2 separate regions of the Homo sapiens genome follow, and region 2 is linked to region 1. Evidence: fine-mapped expression QTL. Tissue or cell type: whole blood. Region 1 holds a variant in brackets; the other region holds the start of a gene. All regions are shown on one strand. Distances are between the middles of the regions.

Region 1 (8,052 bases):
AGACTCTGACCTGCTGCCCCACACCACCCAAGCCAGTCGCTGGGCAGCACTGATGTGGATCAGTTACCCAGAGCTCTTAAAATCCCCATTGCGGGCCCCAGTCTAGCAGTGCTGCTGCAGCAGGCCTGTGACGGAGCCCAGGAGCAGTGCTCGATGCTTCACAGGTGGTTGATATGCAGCCTCTGATAATATAGAAGGTTGGAACCAGAAGAACCTAGGAGATAACCTGCTGGGACTTGTGTTAGCTTTCAGACAGGCCAACTGAGGCTGGAGAGGCTGAGGCCCTGCCCAGGGTTTTACAAGTTGTCAGGAGTTGATGGCACCAAAACCCACCTTCCTAATCAGTGATTTTTTATTTATTTATTTGTTTATTTTTTTTGAGACAGGGTCTTGCTCTGTCGCCCAGGCTGGAGTGCAGTGGAGAGATCTCGGCTCACTGCAAGCTCTGCCTCCTGGGTTCATGCCATTCTCCTGCCTCAGCCTCCAGAGTAGCTGGGACCACAGGCGCCCACCACCACACCTGGCTGATTTTTTGGATTTTTAGTAGAGACGGGGTTTCACCGTGTTGGCCAGGATGGTCTCGATCTCCTGACCTTGTGATCCGCCTGCCTCGGCCTCCCAAAGTGCTGGGATTACAGGCGTGAGCCACCGTGCCCGGGCCCTTAATCAGTGATTTTTATGCCTTTCCTGAGCCAAAAGATGGCTGAGTGTTTGTTGGGGGAAATAAAGCTACATTATTGAAATTGAGACCAGTTAACACTCTTCAGTGGTTATTTTGGGGTCTCCTTGTGCTCCCAGTGGCCGAAAGGGTGAGACTGTCTTTTTACTTTTTGCTACCTTCCCTTTCCCTGTCCTCCTGTGCAGGTACCTTGAGGTTATGCGGAAACTCCAGAAAACATACAGGATGGAGCCAGCCGGCAGCCAGGGAGTGTGGGGTCTGGATGACTTCCAGTTTCTGCCCTTCATCTGGGGCAGTTCGCAGCTGATAGGTACTAGAGCGGGAGGTGCCTATCCCTCCACCCCCAACCAAGGCTGCGTTCTGTGGCCCTCCCCTGCCCCTCCTGCGCTCCCTCCTTCCCTTCTTCCTGCCCAGGGCAGACAGTGACAGCTTGGAAAGCAGGGCATTAGACCAGCTATTGAGGGAGGCTGTTTACTGTCGACCTTCTGCTGTGAGAGCCCGTGTGGTGGGCTGGAGGAGGCGGAGGCCAAGCGCCACCAAGATAATGGGAAGTGACATGGGCTGGAGCAAGGGCGCACGCCTGGTGCATAATGGACTGGTGTGAAATGCGCCCCAGCTCCTGGCAGCAGCTGTGGGGTTTTATGTTGAAAATGAGGGACCCTTTTGATTTGGTGACCAGTGTCATCCACTGTTATTATCGAGCTGTGTGCAAAGGGGCCCGTTAGGGAGCAGCCGCCAAGTGCTGGGTGGTGGGCCTGCTTCCTGTGGGGCTCAGAGAGGCCTGCTCTGGTGACTCCCCAACTCTTGAAGCTAGTTTTCAGGATGGGCGTAGGTGATCATCTCTATTTTGATGAAGAATGAACTGCCTACAGACTGATATTCATAAATGACCATTAGTTGTGGCCTCGGGTGCATTGCCTCCCCGAATCTTCTCAGTGACACTGCGAAGGGTCTGCCAGCATGAAGCCGGCTCTGCTGACTGGCACCTGCACCAGGCACCATACTGAGTGCTGTAGGTGTGGTAATTGTTGTCATGGCCCCTAGGAGGAGGTGCTCTTCTTGTCCCCAGTGTCCAGGTGAGGAAACTGAACCTTGGCAGGCTGAAGTCATGCGTCCAACGCCATGCAGCTAGAGCTTAGCACATTAGAATACACAAACCCAGAGTTACTTATTGCTCCTTCAAGGTGAGGTGTTGAGGGCACCACGGGCAGGACTGAGGCCCCTGGGGGGGTGTGACTGCTGGGCCGGGTTGCCCAGGTAGTCGTGGGGCCTGGTTCTGAATGCTGGGGCCCATTCCTTTTCCCAGACCACCCATACCTGGAGCCCAGACACTTTGTGGATGAGAAGGCCGTGAATGAGAACCACAAGGACTACATGTTCCTGGAGTGTATCCTGTTTATTACCGAGGTGAGGAGGAGGGGTGAGAGAGAAGCCCATGGCTGCCTCCAGGCTCAGATGAACCAAGGCTGGTGGCCTTACAGTGGATCAGAAGAGCCAGAGCTGCTGCCCAAAATGGCAGGGCCGGCCGGAGCGGGTTATTGAAAAGGAAGCACCACTGGGCCTCTTCCGAAAGAGCCGCTGCTGACTGTCAGGTCCTCCGCCCAGTTCTCCTTCAGTTTCTCCTGAACACCACAGGAGTCTTGAGATGAGGGTCTAAGACTTGGTCACTAACTGGCCTTGGTGACTGCTGCAGCAGGTCTGAAAGGGTCGGGGCGGGCGGAGGTTTGTGGGGGAGGGTCAGCATCTTTCGGTGGGGCCCCACAAGGGTCTGTAGAACCATGTGCTGTGGATGTGTAAAATGAAACCACCAGAGGAGATGGAGCGAACTTCTGGTGCAGACAGCTTTTCTGTCGAAGGGACACGTCTCTGTCAGTGCCTGAGGACGTGGGCCCGAGCAAAGTGCTGGAGTGGGAGTGCGCAGGCCTGGCCTGTGGTGGCAGTCACTGGATAGCCAGCCCCACGGCTGGGTTCTGGAACTGGAAGTTATTGTCTCACCAAGGCAGGATTCCTTGCAGTGGGCCCTGGACCACTTGTGCGAGATCTCCTAGTGTGTTTGTTAAAACGCACATTCCTGGGCCCTCCATCCCAGCTTATTGCATCAGAATCTTAGGGGACAAGAGCCAGGAACCTGCATCTAAACACACGTGCCAGGCGACTGCACAGGAAAGCTGGGGACCCTCTGCTCTCTGGACCTCTCTTGAGGGAGGTGTTAGGACTTCTCATCCTCTCTGCCATCCCCATGCCCCAGTTTCCAAAGGGCGCCCTCGCTCAGCTATCTGGAGAGGGTTTGAGAGTTCTATCCCTCCTCAGTCCCTTTCCCGACACCAGCACGGATGTCTGCTGCCTCAGTGAGGTTCCTAGCAGGCCTGTGGATGCTGGCCACGGGGGCTGCTCTCCGTCCGGGCTGTGTATTCTGAGCCCCCGACGAGGTGGAGAAAGCTGGGTTATAACCAGCAGCCTTGGCTCCAGGCTCTTCCTGGTCAACATTCGGCTCAGGCTTCTGCCAAACTCCAGAGGCCAGAGGGGAATGACACATTTTTTCCAAGTCAGCAAATGGAGCCGGGACTGACGGCTGGGCGGCCACCACTTCATTCCCGGAGATCTGCTGCCCTCAGCAGTGTGGCAGGCCCAAGGTCGGGAGGACTTGGGGGCAGCCTGGCTCACTGCCTTGAAAGCCAGTCACGCGCTGCTCTCTGTGGAGTGGAATGTGGGGGTCTGCGGAGCCCTGGGGGACCTCAGGATAAGCTGGAGGAGCAGGGTGGGAAGAAGGGTGCAGATGCCACACTGAGTTCTTGGGTGTGGCTGAAAGGCTGAGCTGTTTGGGCTCCCCCGGCGGCTGGCCAGGCCTCTGGGTCCCTGTCGGTATTCTAACTAGGAGGCATGCCAGGCCTGGCCTCCAGGATTTTGGGAATTGATTCCATGGTAAAATTTTGTCTTTAGTTGGTTGGTTGATTTTGTTGGTATAAACACCCCAAAAGCTTTTCCAAAGTTTGGGACCCAGTTCCTCCAGTAGAGGAAATCTCAAAGTAGCCACTAGGTGGCAGGAGAGGCACACTGAACTTGGAGAGGGTTTGGTGACATTTATTTGAGGCAGCAGAAGGAACAGGGAGGGGAGGGCGTGCCTAGAGTTGTTGGCTGTTCCGCACCTTCTCCACAGGTC[C/T]GGGTTTTCACTTTGGGTCTAGGCTCTTGGGCATGGTGTTCAACAGTAGACCCTAGGAGGAGTGTGCCCAGGAGCCGGGGTGGCTGCAGCAAGGGCCCATCTTGCCACGTGGCCGCTGGTTGCAGCACACGTTGTGTTGGTTCTCCAGAGCGCCCACCCTCTTCCACCTCGGAGCAGTGAGCAGCATTTTGCAGTCCCTAGTTGGTGAGTGGCCTGGCCTAGCTCACTGGGGACCTGGAGGCTTGCATGGAGTTCTGTACGCCTTGCTTGGGAAGGAGGCAGTGTTTCCTCTGGAGACCCTGGATTCACCATGGTGCTCTTTTAACTGGGAGATTAACTAAAACACCGAGAACTTGGGAGTGGAATCAGGCAGCCCTTTCAGGGTCTCATGCCAAGACTGCCCTGATACCCGTGGGCATCCTAGGTGAGGGACCCCACCTTGCAGGGCCTCTACAGCCTCTGTAAATGCAGCCCTGGCGCCTTTAAGAGCCCAGGGCAGGCAGGAAAAGAATTTCAGTTTCAATCTGGCTTCTAAATTTGGAGTTTTGGGAAGGGAGGGATCAGATTTCAGCTGGAAGGGAAGGAGCTGACAGGAAGGCGCTGTGCAGAGCCTCCCCACCCCCGCCCATCCCCCCAGTTACTGACAGAGGAGCCATTTACAAAAGGCCGATTCTCTGGGGAGTGGAGAGGCAGGAACGCAGCGTCTGTGAGTAATTTCCTGCTCAATATGGCTGCTCTGACTCACACGATTCCCCTGGGGTCACTGCGGGCTGCAGCTCGCTCGCTCATTCTGGTTCTTTCTCTTCTCCCTTTGTGGCTAGAATGAGCTAATTTTTTCTTTGTCTTCCAGCCCCGATTCCTTTTTCTCCCACTCGTCTGTTTTCCTTTGCCAGAGTTACAGGCAAAGGACTGTAACCTCCCTGAAGGACTTAGGGAGACCCTGGGGTACTGAAGGCCTGGGGGCAGCCTGCAGCCCCTCCAAAGAAACTACCTCTCTGGCCTTTCTGTGTGTAGGGGCCCAGGGCCACTGGAGCTCCAGGACATGGGCCTAGCCCTGGCTCTGCCAGAGGCCTTTTGAGGATCTGTTCTTTGGCCCTGGTAGGCGAGGCTGGCCAGGAGGCAGGGGCTCTTGTCTTCCAGTGCCCATCTGCCTGCCTTTGCCTCGGAGCCCTTGCCGGGCAGGCCCCTGGCAGACAAAGCCGACAAAGCCGACAGGGTGCCTCCTGGTTGCTTGCTCAGAGGGCCCTGTCCAGAGAGTGAAACTGGTTACACAGCTCCATGCTCCCTGAGCTTTCCTGGGCCTGGAAGTGTGCACAGGGCTGGAGCCTGCAGACTGGGGAAGGGGTGGGGTAGGGTGGGGAGGTGGGGGAGGGGCTGGGGGTGGAGTGTGGTTGAGCAGGGCAGTTGAAACAAAGCTCCCCAGAGGTGAGGCCCCTGTAGGCTCGGGGTGCCTGGCTGCCCTCCTGGAGGAGAGAGCCTGGGGTGATTCTGAGTGAAGCGAGTGGTCCAAGACAAGGCCCCCAGGGACCAGAGTGGGCTTTGTCTCTGTTGGGTGCCTCGGGCTCTTGCCTGGCTGTGGTGGAGCCTGGGAGAGAAGAGGAGGGGAGGGAGGAGCCTGTTGTCCTTGCTCCTGAACATGGGTGTTTGGATGGGCTTTTTGGGAACCTGGGCCAGGGGAGGGAAATGAGGGGGATAAAATGACAGGTTTTTTTTGACTTAAATCTTAAAAGTTTTGTCACAGTTGCCCTTACTAGAGAAGTAAGAGGCCTGCCAGGAGTGGGTCACCAGGTGGCAGCCCATGGCTCAAGAGTGGGGGCTCCTGAGGGCTCTTGTGGTGAACTGATGCCCCTTTTTGGAGAGCGTTTCTGGCTTATCTTTTCTCCTTCAAAAAATAACCCAGTCTCCCCTGACACCCGCATGTTTCTAGAACCTTCCAAGTCTCTGTTTCTTTGCCAGATTCAGCCTCTTTGCAGAGTCTTCCTTCTGCAGCATGGGTCTGGGGTACAGAGCCCTGTTCCCCTGTAAATGCTGCCTATGAGCTGGGGGGCTGTGTCGAGGGGAATTATGAACTGCTTGGTTAATAAATACAAATGTGCTGGACTTGCGGTGTCAGGGGGATATGCTCAGGCACACAGGCGTCCCTCTGTGGTTTCTGACGTCATGGGAACTTCATGCTGGCTGCAGAATCTTTCTCTTCCGTCCTGGAGGGTCAGACTCTTTGGCAAGAGGGAGGACCAGGAATGGAGCCGTCCTTGTGCCTGCCTCTTTCAGCTGCTGTGGCGGCCACCCCTTCCCCACCTCCTGGCCAGGCCAGGCTGGCTGCTGCTTCAGGCACCCCTGCCTCCCATCGGCCCTCTCTTCCCTGCCTGCATGGCAGGCAGAGGGCTGTCGGATACCTGGGTTTGGTCATACCCACCTTGGTCCTCTTGCAAATTGACCCTTTCCTCATCTCTTCTAGCTCTGCTGGTGGCAGGTGCAGACCACGTGTCCTGTGGGGGGGCCTGGGGGAGAGGGGGTGGGCCTGGAGGGGTGGGGCCTAGCTGCTGCTGCTATTTATCTGAACCCAAGTGAATCCCTGTGCTGGAGAGGCGCTCTGAGGCTCCTGGGGAGTCGGTGGGAACGACACCAGAAGCTCAGGTGGAGATCTTATCTTCCTGAGGCTGCTGGATTTGGTGGGCGATAGGAATCAGGCCCCCTTTTTTTGGCTGTGGGAGAAAGAGGGGTGACTGCGGGTAGGTGGGCAAGGAATGTTATATTTTCCTAGCAGGCCTTGAGGGCCAAAGGGGAACCTTGTCTCTGGCACTTGCATGTGCCTGTTTGTATGTTTGCCCCTCAGGCAGATGCTATAGCTTGGTCCCCAAGTGTCTGCGCGTGCATTGTGTGCGTGTGCGTTTGTGTGTGTGTGTGTGTGCATGCATGGGTGTGACTTTGCTGCAGGGGAGGAGGGATGAGCTCCCAGCCAGAACCTGTCTCTTCAGCTTGTGGCTTCTCTTTTTCAGATGAAGACTGGCCCATTTGCAGAGCACTCCAACCAGCTGTGGAACATCAGCGCCGTCCCTTCCTGGTCCAAAGTGAACCAGGGTCTCATCCGCATGTATAAGGCCGAGGTGAGTGGGGGCTGGCCAGTGTGCCCGTCCCTGCTGCCGCACTTGGTCCTGGGCTGGGGACAAAGCAAAAGATGTGGAACCTGGGGCTCCTGCTTCCTCCTACCCCACTGTTTTGCTCTGAATCTTAGGCCAGCCCCTCTGACACTTGGGGCCTCGGAATCTCCCATCTGGGGCATGGGCAGTCAGAGAAGCACCAGCCACCCCAGCCCCGAAAAGCTGCAGTCCAGCTCTGTCCTGATGAGCTTGGAGGCTGAGGCAAGGACCTGCTGCATGGGGAGTGGGGGCGATGGGGGCCTCCCTTCTCCTTTATCAAGTGGCCAAAGGCTCCTCAAAGCTCGGGCAGTCTGAGTCTGGCTCTCCCATGGCATACCTGGGAAGGGTCTTACCCTTTGGAGGCATCTCCAAAGTGCTGCCTTCAAATGTTAGTGTGTATGATCACTGAGTGGTGGGAGGTCTGAGGGTAGGCCGAGAATTGGCATTTTTATGGACCGCTTCAGGGATTTTGATGCAAATGGTTTTCCCTGCTCTCAAATCAGATGCTGAGGAGAGGAGAGCTGAGGCTTCCTGGAGCTCCCCCTGCTGGCAGGCAGCCGAGGGTGTCTCCTGCCCTCTTGGCACTGTTCTCCCAGCCAAGGAGGTGGCCTTTTCTCTCTTCCAAGTGGGGAGGAGACATTTTATTTCTACTCTGTCCCTTCTGCTAGCTCCTCCCACTTCCTGGGAAGACTAATTCTAGAACTGCTTGACCTTGGCCAGGGAAGGGCTGGATGTGAAGTTCCACACCTGGAGTGATGGGTCCTTAAAGTCCCTTCTTTCTGTTCTCAGGCTGGCCCTTGTGACTAGTTCATGGCCTCAGACACTGTACTGTGGGCACCATCTCTTGACTCCTGGCCGGCCTTCTCTTCTGGGAAGGGGCTGCTCCAGGTCTTCATTGGACCCAGAGCTTCCTGGATCCCATCAGCAGAGGCGGGACAACGGGGAAGGGTGCCAGAGGCCAGCGGGGTGGGGGAGCACAGATGCTTCCAGTTGGCTTGGCTCCCTGCACTTGGTCCTGAAGGGGTTAATGAGGCTTGAACTGAACAGACCGGGCCCTCACTCCCTTCCGCCCC
Region 2 (8,052 bases), 29 kb before region 1:
AGTGCAGTGGCACAATCTTGGCTCACTGCAACCTCCACCTGCCAGGTTCAAGCAATTCTCCTGCCTCAGCCTCCCCAGTATCTGGGATTACAGGTGCGTGCCACTACGCCTGGCTAATTTTTGTATTTTTAGTAGAGACAGGGTTTCATCATGTTGGCCAGGCTGGTCCCGAACTCCTGACCTTGTGATCTGCCCGCCTTGGACTCCCAAAGTGCTGGGATTATAGGTGTGAGTCACTGCATCCAGCTGCCACTTTTTAAATCTGTGTATTGAAGTATGAGATGCAAATAGAAAAGCACACCAAACATTGGTGTAGACATATTTGCCAAACTGGGTACACCTGTGTCATAGATCAGATACAGAACCTGGGCGATCGGTCACTGAGTGACACATATCCCCTGCCTGAGGCTGTCCCACCAAGCACAAGGGCATCTTCTATCTGGTTGTACCTGCCGTGCACCCCACTCCTGCCTCTGTCCTGGAACATGAAACCTTGTCCACAACCTGTATCCTGTTCATTACCTTTCTCTCCTCCCTACTTGAATGTTAGCTCCAAGGAGCTGGTGACTGTGTCCTTCTTGATCACCCAGCACCCTGCCAAGTGCCAGACACAGAGTATGTGCTCACGAAACTCTGGGCAGCAAACGAACGGCCGTGCCAGAGCAGTGGGCACTGGAGAACTGTGCATGTGCAGCCAGCAGCAGGTCACAGTGAGGATGCCCTCACTCACCCAGTTCTCCGTCTTCCTGGCCCGACGCTCCAGCCCCTTCTGCAGGCGCTCCCCTACACCTCCTGAGGCCTGAAACTCATCCACCAGCTGCTTGGTGTGGGCCCACTCCTCCTCACTCACGATGGGCTGCAGCGCCTTCAGGTAGTGGTCCAGGGACTGCTGGAGAGGGGGCACGGGCAGCCGTGGCAGTGCATCCTGGTGTGCCTTGAAGCGGCTGGAAGCCTTCATCAAGGAGAAGGGCTTCAGGAAGCCCAGAGGCTTCACCTGCAGGTAGCAGAACATCCTGTTCATTCCCTCCCCGGCTCTGGAGCCCTGGCAGCCCCAAAGCTGTAGTCCTGGGCACTTAAGTGCCCATCCCTGGGGGCAGAGACGGCCTCTTGGGTGGGGCTGGCCCTGGCCTCCCAGCCCTAGAGCTCTAGGTGTCCCCGCCTCTCTGGGGCCTGGAGATGCAGGTAGGGATGGGGGAGGGTGGGGTGTGGCCATGGTTCTTAGCAAGGCTCAGGGGAACCAAGTCAGGATGAACGGCACCTTTGGGGTGGCAGAGGTGAGGGGGACCGCCCACCTGTTGGGTTGCACAGGCCCCTCCTTTCTCACCCTGGAAGAGGAGCCAGCCAGCAGAGTGGTGACTGTCCCTCTTGGAGGTCCCCACGTCCTTTTCTCCCACCCTTTCCAGGTTGAGAAACAGAAGGGAAGAAGAGAGAATCACAGAGAGCCAGACAATGGCAGCACCTTCGGGTGAGGGGCCTTGGGCTTCCTCCTGCCTTTGAGATGGGGCAGGGGTGGGGTGAGGGCAGTGCTGTGGCGAGAGAGCCGGGTGGCCTGGCATGGAGGGTGAGAGGCGGCAGAGAGAGAAAGAGAAAGTCCAGGAGGCCCTGGAGTGGGCAGAGACAGGAGGGCCCGAGGCTGCTCTTGCAGTGGGCAGGCGAGTGGCAGGAGCTCTGTTCCATACCTTCTCTCTCTGCTGCCCGTCCTCCTCCATGGCAGGACTGAGGTTCTGGGCCCTGTCTGTCTGCCTTGGCTGGATCTCTAAGCCTAACTGTGCTACAAAGTGAGTGAGCAGAACCTAGCCAGAGGCAGCCACTTGCCTGGGCTGGAAAGAGAAGACAAGAGCCAAGATTCAGCGGGAGGCAGGTGGCAGTGGCGATGGCTGTGGTGGAATCGGGGGTTGTGGCAGTGGCAGGGGAAGCTCCTGGACTCTAGAAGCTGCTCCACCCTCCCGAGCTCCCAGAAGTAGAGGAATGGGGAGCAGGTGAGAGGGCTAGTGGGGGGGCATTCCAGTAGAAGGGAACCTGGAAAGTTCTTTCCTTTCTTCTCTGCATGGGCTCAGTGCCAGGGAGTCAGGACAAAAGGTAATAAAAAATCCACCTGTCAGAATCTGCGAAGATCGTTTTGATGAGGGAAAACTTGGCTGGAGGACAGAGACTGCCTGGCCGCTGAGGTTACACCACAGCCCTGGGATCGGTCCTGAAATTAGGGTTGGTGCAAGGGAGCAGACACCAGGAAAAGGCCATCAGTGGATGGGACAGCCAGAAGCCCTGCCTATTTCCTGTTTCTCTCCAGGACTCCTGGGACCCATCTGAGCCATCCCTCTACGAACACTCATTTTTTCCTGAGCTGTGGCTCATTCAGCTAGGGTCCAAGAGCGGAGGACTTTTGGTATGAAAAATAAACCAAAGGACACTGGGATTGGGCTGGATTTGAATGAGCAGGTCCAGGGGACTCTGGGCAAGTCCCTCCTTGCCTCAGTTTCCCTGCAGGAAGGTAACCAGTCCAGTCGGATGGTCCTGGAGGATGATCTAGAGGCTGTTTGTGGGATGGATGCAGCTTGGGAGACAGTGACAAGGGTGCGGTGGAGGCTCAGGGTGTTGCAACACCTAAAAGAGCCTCTAGGCCTGAGCCTGGATGCACCCTCCGCCCTCTGGCCCCGTAGTGTGTGTCTGAGACAGAGTGAGACACCAGCAACATATGCTTGGATCAGGGACGGAAGGGACTGAAATTAGGCTAGCATCCGGGCTGCTCACCGGGGAGGACTGAGGGGTAGATATAGCCAGGGTGGGGAAGGGGGCTAGAGGGGAGGATATAGCCAGGGTGGGGAAGGGGGCTGGAGGGAAGGATACAGCCAGGGTGGGGAAGGGGGCTGGAGGGGAGGGAGACCATGGGGCTGCCACCTGCCAGTTCTGAGGCCTTTCTAGCTTGATGCCTCCGCGTGTTTCTCTGGCCACACACAATTCCCCAGGGACCGTCTGATAAACCAAAGGAGTGTGACCAACTGGACAGGGTCGGAGGAGTGGCTCTGGCCTAAGCGTGCGACGGGTGTGTCAATCGGAGAATAACTGGGAGAGTGAGCTAGGGTCTGGATGCTCCTGGTCTCTCTCCCCTACCGGCCTGTCTCTGGGTCTAAGGGTGGGGGTGCTAACTGAAGCCGGGGTCCCCCTTGTCTTTCCTGGGTCGTTGGAACTGAATGCTCCAGGACGTGGGTTTAATCCCGCTTCTGACCTTGCGCCCCAATCTCCTGCTCTGCCAAACCTGGGACGCCCGCCTGACCCCACCCCATCAGCTGGAGGCCGGGTCGAACAGCGGCCGCAGGACGCGGTCTCCGTTCCCGGACGCAACCGCACGGCCCGCCCAGGCCGTCCAGGGCCCTCAGGCCCGGGATCCGCCGCACTCACCACGGTCCTGGCAGCGAAGGCTAACATCTTCGCTGCCCGTCCGCGGACACGCAGTCCGCTCCGCCCCACACACCGGGCAAAGTCCGCGCCGCCGCCGCCGCGGCTGGGGTCGGTGGGTCCTTGCTAGAGCCTTCGGGCCAAGGTCGCTGAGTTACAGCCGCCAGCCGGTAGAGGCAGCCCCGCGCCCACCCTCTGGGCCGAGCGGGCTGCGGGAAGGCACCCGGGGAGGAGGACTCGCGAGGCGGGGCCTGGGCCGGTAGCGGGCCCCGGGCGGGCAACGGTGCCCGGGAGGTTGGCTGTGGGGCGGGGACGGGGCATCGATGGGGCGGAGTCTCCTTGAGGAGGGACAGGAGGGGCGGGGACGGAGGGGCGGGGCGTCGCCCGGTAGCGGGTCGCAGTAGGCTGGCTGCGAGTCGGGGGCGGGACCACGGCGGGCGGGGACAGAGGGGCAGGGCCGAGGGCGAGTCATTGAGACCTGTGGAGGAGGAAGGAGGAGGTCACCGTCCAGCTGTCTCTCCCCTGTCCCCACATGTCTTCTAAGCTGTTGGAGGTAGTGGTGTGCACCTTTCCAACTCCGTCTGGTGTCCTTGAGCCTAACTCTTAGAGTGATAGGAAAACACAACCATGTTGACCGGGGAATGTCCTCTAATATTCCTTGGGTTAGGGTCAGTACCACCCACAAAGATGACAGGTGGTACTCCGGGACAGGAGACTGTCCCGGAAAAACATGGCTGAGCACAACCCAAACTTGACGCCCCGCACAATCGTGGCAGTCGCGGCGCCCGACGTTCGGGCGGCCGTGAGCGGTCCTAGCGCTTGGCGGCCGTTGGCGCGCATGCGCCCCGCGCGCCCCGCACTGACATGGCCGTCGCCCGGTTCCGCGCGTCCGCCGCGCGCCGGCCGTTAATAGGCTTGCTCCCTGAGCGCCCCGCACCGACATGGCGGCCGTCTTCGCTGTGGTGACTTTAACTCTCGGTTTTCGGTTATAGCCGGCCGGCGCTCACTTGTCTTCAGGAAGCTCGGAGCCTTTGGTGGAGCCGGGGAGAGGAAGGGTGGGTGCAAGAGTGAAAGGCGAGAGGGGACTGCAAGCATCCGGGTCGGCTCCTGGCCGGAGCAAGATGGCTGAGGGCGAGCGGCAGCCGCCGCCAGGTAAGGCCGGCGGGGCCAGGCCGGGCCGGGGTCGGGTAGGGTGGGGGCGGTGCCAGGTGTGGGAGGCTCAGGAGGGCGAGAGTCATGACACGGAGGAACTGGAGGGGCAAAAGCTGAGGGGCCCCGAGGAGGGACTGAGTTGAATGGCCTTAGGGGAGAGGTGGGTGGTGGGGCGCCGCTGGGGAGGGAACCAGGGGCTGCAAAGGGGTGGTGATTGGGGCGCAACTCTGGGTTTTGTGGGAGTCCAGGCTGCCCGAATGCTGGGTGGGCAGCGCCGTGGTCATAAGGGGGCCTTTTGCATCTCTGGGCAGCGCGTGCTTAAGTAAGCTGCTGACTCGGTGGGGAAGCTGCCAGGGAGGGGGGCGAAAGTGATTCCGGAGGCTGCCGTCTTTATTAGTCGCTGCTTAGGGGATGGGGTGGTGCTCCGTGGGCCTGCGCCCGCCTCGCCTCCAGTTTCGGCCTCCGCGTCCTGCTCACCCCTCATCCTCCTACTCTCTGGTTCCAGTGCCTGAGAATTTATTGAGGGAAACTGCCCGTGGTGTCTAAATCCCTAATTTTAAAAGGCTGGTTGTGCAAGGAGGTTAGTCTCTCCGGCATCTCCTTCGGTAACTCTTATTTACCTTGTAGCCTCTTTTTAGTTCATCTTAAATAACTGGGATGGAGGTGCTACGGAAGGATCTTAGAGACCCTTTTTGTGCAGAAGGAGAAGGCTGTTTGCCGACCTACCTTGAACTAAGAAGGACTGGCCATAGATAACTTTTACATTCCCGACAGAGGCAAATAGGTTGGCCGACCAAACACAGCTAATGTTTTGAAAGCATTTGATATTCTTGCTATCCTGTCTCCAATGTTGGGGTCCCTGGGAAGGTCTCAGGAGGGAGAAATGTTGAAAATCAGAAAAGGCATCCCCTCCATGCCCCACAAAAGAGGTGAACAAAGAGCTGGGTTCCGTTTCTTAGGACATTCAAAACCAGACATTTATTTTGTACAAAACCTCTGGGTGTGTGCCCTTAGAACAAGGATGTCCAGGCCAGGCGCGGTGGCTCATGCCCGTAATCCCAGCACTTTGGGAGGCCGAGGCGGGCTGATCACCTGAGGTCGGGAGTTCGAGACCAGCCTGACCAACATGGAGAAACTCCGTCTCTTCTAAAAATACAAAATTAGCCGGGCGTGGTGACACACGCCCGTAATCCCAACTACTAGGGAGGATGAGGCAGGAGAATCGCTTGAACCTGGGAAGCAGAGGTTGCGGTGAGCTGAGATCGCGGCATTGCACTCCAGCCTGGACAACAAGAGTGAAACTCCGTCACCCCCCAAAAAAAAAACCGGGGTGTCCACTCTTTTGGCTTCTCTAAGCCACATTGGAAGCAGAATTGTCTTGGGTCACACATAAAATACACTAACACTAACGATGGCTGATGAGCTAAAAAAAAAGTCGCAAAAAAAAAAATCTCATAATGGTTTTGTGTTTCTTTTTTTTGAGACAGTGTCTCACTCTGTCCCCCAGGCTGAAGTGCAGTGGCATGGTCTCGGCTGACTGCACCCTCTGCCTCCCGGGTTCAAGCGATTCTCCTGCCTCAGCCTCCTGAGTAGCTGGGACTACAGGTGCGCCACCATGCCTGGCTAATTTTTGTATTTTTAATAGGGACAGGGTTTCACCATATTGGCCAGGCTGGTCTCGAACTCCTGACCTCGTGATCCTCCTGCCTCGGCCTTCCAAAGTGCTGGGATTACAGGCATGAGCCACCGTGCCTGGCCTATGTTTTAAGAAAGTTTACAAATTTGTGTCCGGCTACATTCAAAGCTGTCCTGGGCTGTGGGTTGAACAAGCTAGCCTTAGAAGTTCTGGTGATGACTCCGGGCACAGTGGCTCACACCTGTAATCCCAGCACTTTGGGAGGCCGACACAGGCGGATCACTTGAGGTCAGGAGTTCGAGACCAGCCATGGCCAACATGGCAAAACCCCGTCTGTATTCAAAATACAAAAATTAGCTGGGTGTGGTGGCACACGTCTGTAATCGCAGCTACTCGGGAGGCTGAGGCAGGAGAATCACTTGAACCCAGGAGGCGGAGGTTGCAGTGAGCCGAGATTGCTCCACTGCACTCCAGCCACTGCACCCCAGCCTGGGCGAGAGAGCTAGACTCCATCTCAAAAAAGAAAAAGTTCTGGTAAGGACATCAGGAGATAGGAGATATAAGGCAACCACTGTTATCAGTGAGATGAATGTGTCCCTGAAGATGAGTGGGGGTGGGGAGTGGGAGGAGAGAGAACCTGTGCCCTGAAAGAGAGCTGTGCTCAGGGAGGTTATCCGTGGCTGGAAACAGCCAGGTCCCTGGTTGTGGTCCTTTTTTGAAATTTGAAACAGAACTTTTGGGAACAGCTGGAAAGAACTTCTTCTTTTTAGTTTTTTTTTGAGACAGAGTTTCACTTTGTCTCCCAGGCCAGGGTGCAGTGGTGCAATCTCAGCTCACTGCAACCTCCGCCTCCTGAGTTCATGCGATTCTCGTGCCTCAGCCTCCCGAGTTGCTGAGGCGCCCACCACTGTGCCGGGCTAATTTTTTGTATTTTTAGTAGAGATGGGATTTCGCCGTGTGGGCCAGGCTGGTCTCGAACTCCTGGCCTCAAGTAATTCACCCGCCTTGGCCACCCAGAGTGCTGGGATTACAGGCGTGAGCCACCGCGCCCGGCGAGAAGTTCTTAATGTAATGATGAAAACTTTGGATTTTGGAGTCATACATATCTGGCTCTGCCTGGCAAGTCACAGCTCTGTGAGCCTCAGTTACTTCTCTCTTTTTTAAAATTTCTTTTTTTTTCCCTGAGAAAAAGCCTCAGTTATTTCTTAAAATAACTATAGGCTACTATACTTTCTTCATAGAATTGTAGTATGTGTTTTATAAGATGTGTGCAAAGCATGGGACATAGTAGGCGATCAGTAAATGCTGATTGCCCTTATCTTTTTCAAAGTTTCAAAGTTGTACAGGTTGAACATGTAGACGAGTTTCAAATGGCCAATGATAATGCTATATATTATAGTCTTTGTTGGGGGGCTTAGGAAGGAACATTTCTAAAATTCTGAATGTTGATTTTATACTGTGAGGTTGTTGGGAATCCACTGTCCCTTGGAACCTATGTCTCTATAACCTGAGGCTGGAGAGACTGTGGGCGTGACCTCATTTATCACCATCCTGCCTTTGAAGGCTTGTTTCTTTGATTTGGGATTGTGTGTTCTGGCAACTTGTGTGTGTTTCATCAGTAATTTGTTATAGTGCTTCCTGGTAAGGTAGCCTTTTCCCAAACATGGACTGGCCTGAAGGCTCTCTTCCTGTGAAATATCCCGGTTAAATAATGTCAGGAGTGCCATCCCTTTTTTTATTTTTATTTTTTGAGACAGAGTCTCACTCTGTCACCCAGGCTGGAGTGCAGTAGCATGATCTTGGCTCAGTGCAACCTCCGAGGAGAGCTGTCCCTTTGCAGAGAATGGTGATCTCACACATATAAAAGG

What was found. PIP is the estimated chance that this variant, and not a neighbour inherited with it, causes the effect.
Region 2: it holds the start of PTPA, and the variant in region 1 is fine-mapped to the expression of PTPA in whole blood (TOPMed, PIP above 0.99).

The regions. Positions count from the first base shown.
Region 1 is chr9:129,135,607-129,143,658 of GRCh38, forward strand. It overlaps PTPA (protein phosphatase 2 phosphatase activator), which reads left to right. Exons shown (of 10, transcript NM_178000.3): 7 at 865-989; 8 at 1,986-2,086; 9 at 6,839-6,946. Among named protein-coding and RNA genes, the nearest start is that of PTPA, 28 kb to the left of the region's middle. RefSeq lists enhancers at 2,882-3,509, 3,978-4,067, 4,140-4,767, 4,188-4,237, 4,528-4,687 and 4 more and a silencer at 5,288-5,337. The variant C/T (reference allele first, on the strand shown) is at 3,840.
Region 2 is chr9:129,107,084-129,115,135 of GRCh38, forward strand. It overlaps PTPA (protein phosphatase 2 phosphatase activator), which reads left to right and starts at 4,332. Exons shown (of 10, transcript NM_178000.3): 1 at 4,332-4,548. The coding sequence starts at 4,518. It overlaps CRAT (carnitine O-acetyltransferase), which reads right to left and starts at 3,710. Exons shown (of 14, transcript NM_000755.5): 1 at 3,400-3,710; 2 at 731-994. The coding sequence starts at 3,426. RefSeq lists silencers at 3,466-3,905, 4,596-4,645 and enhancers at 4,316-4,595, 4,528-5,068.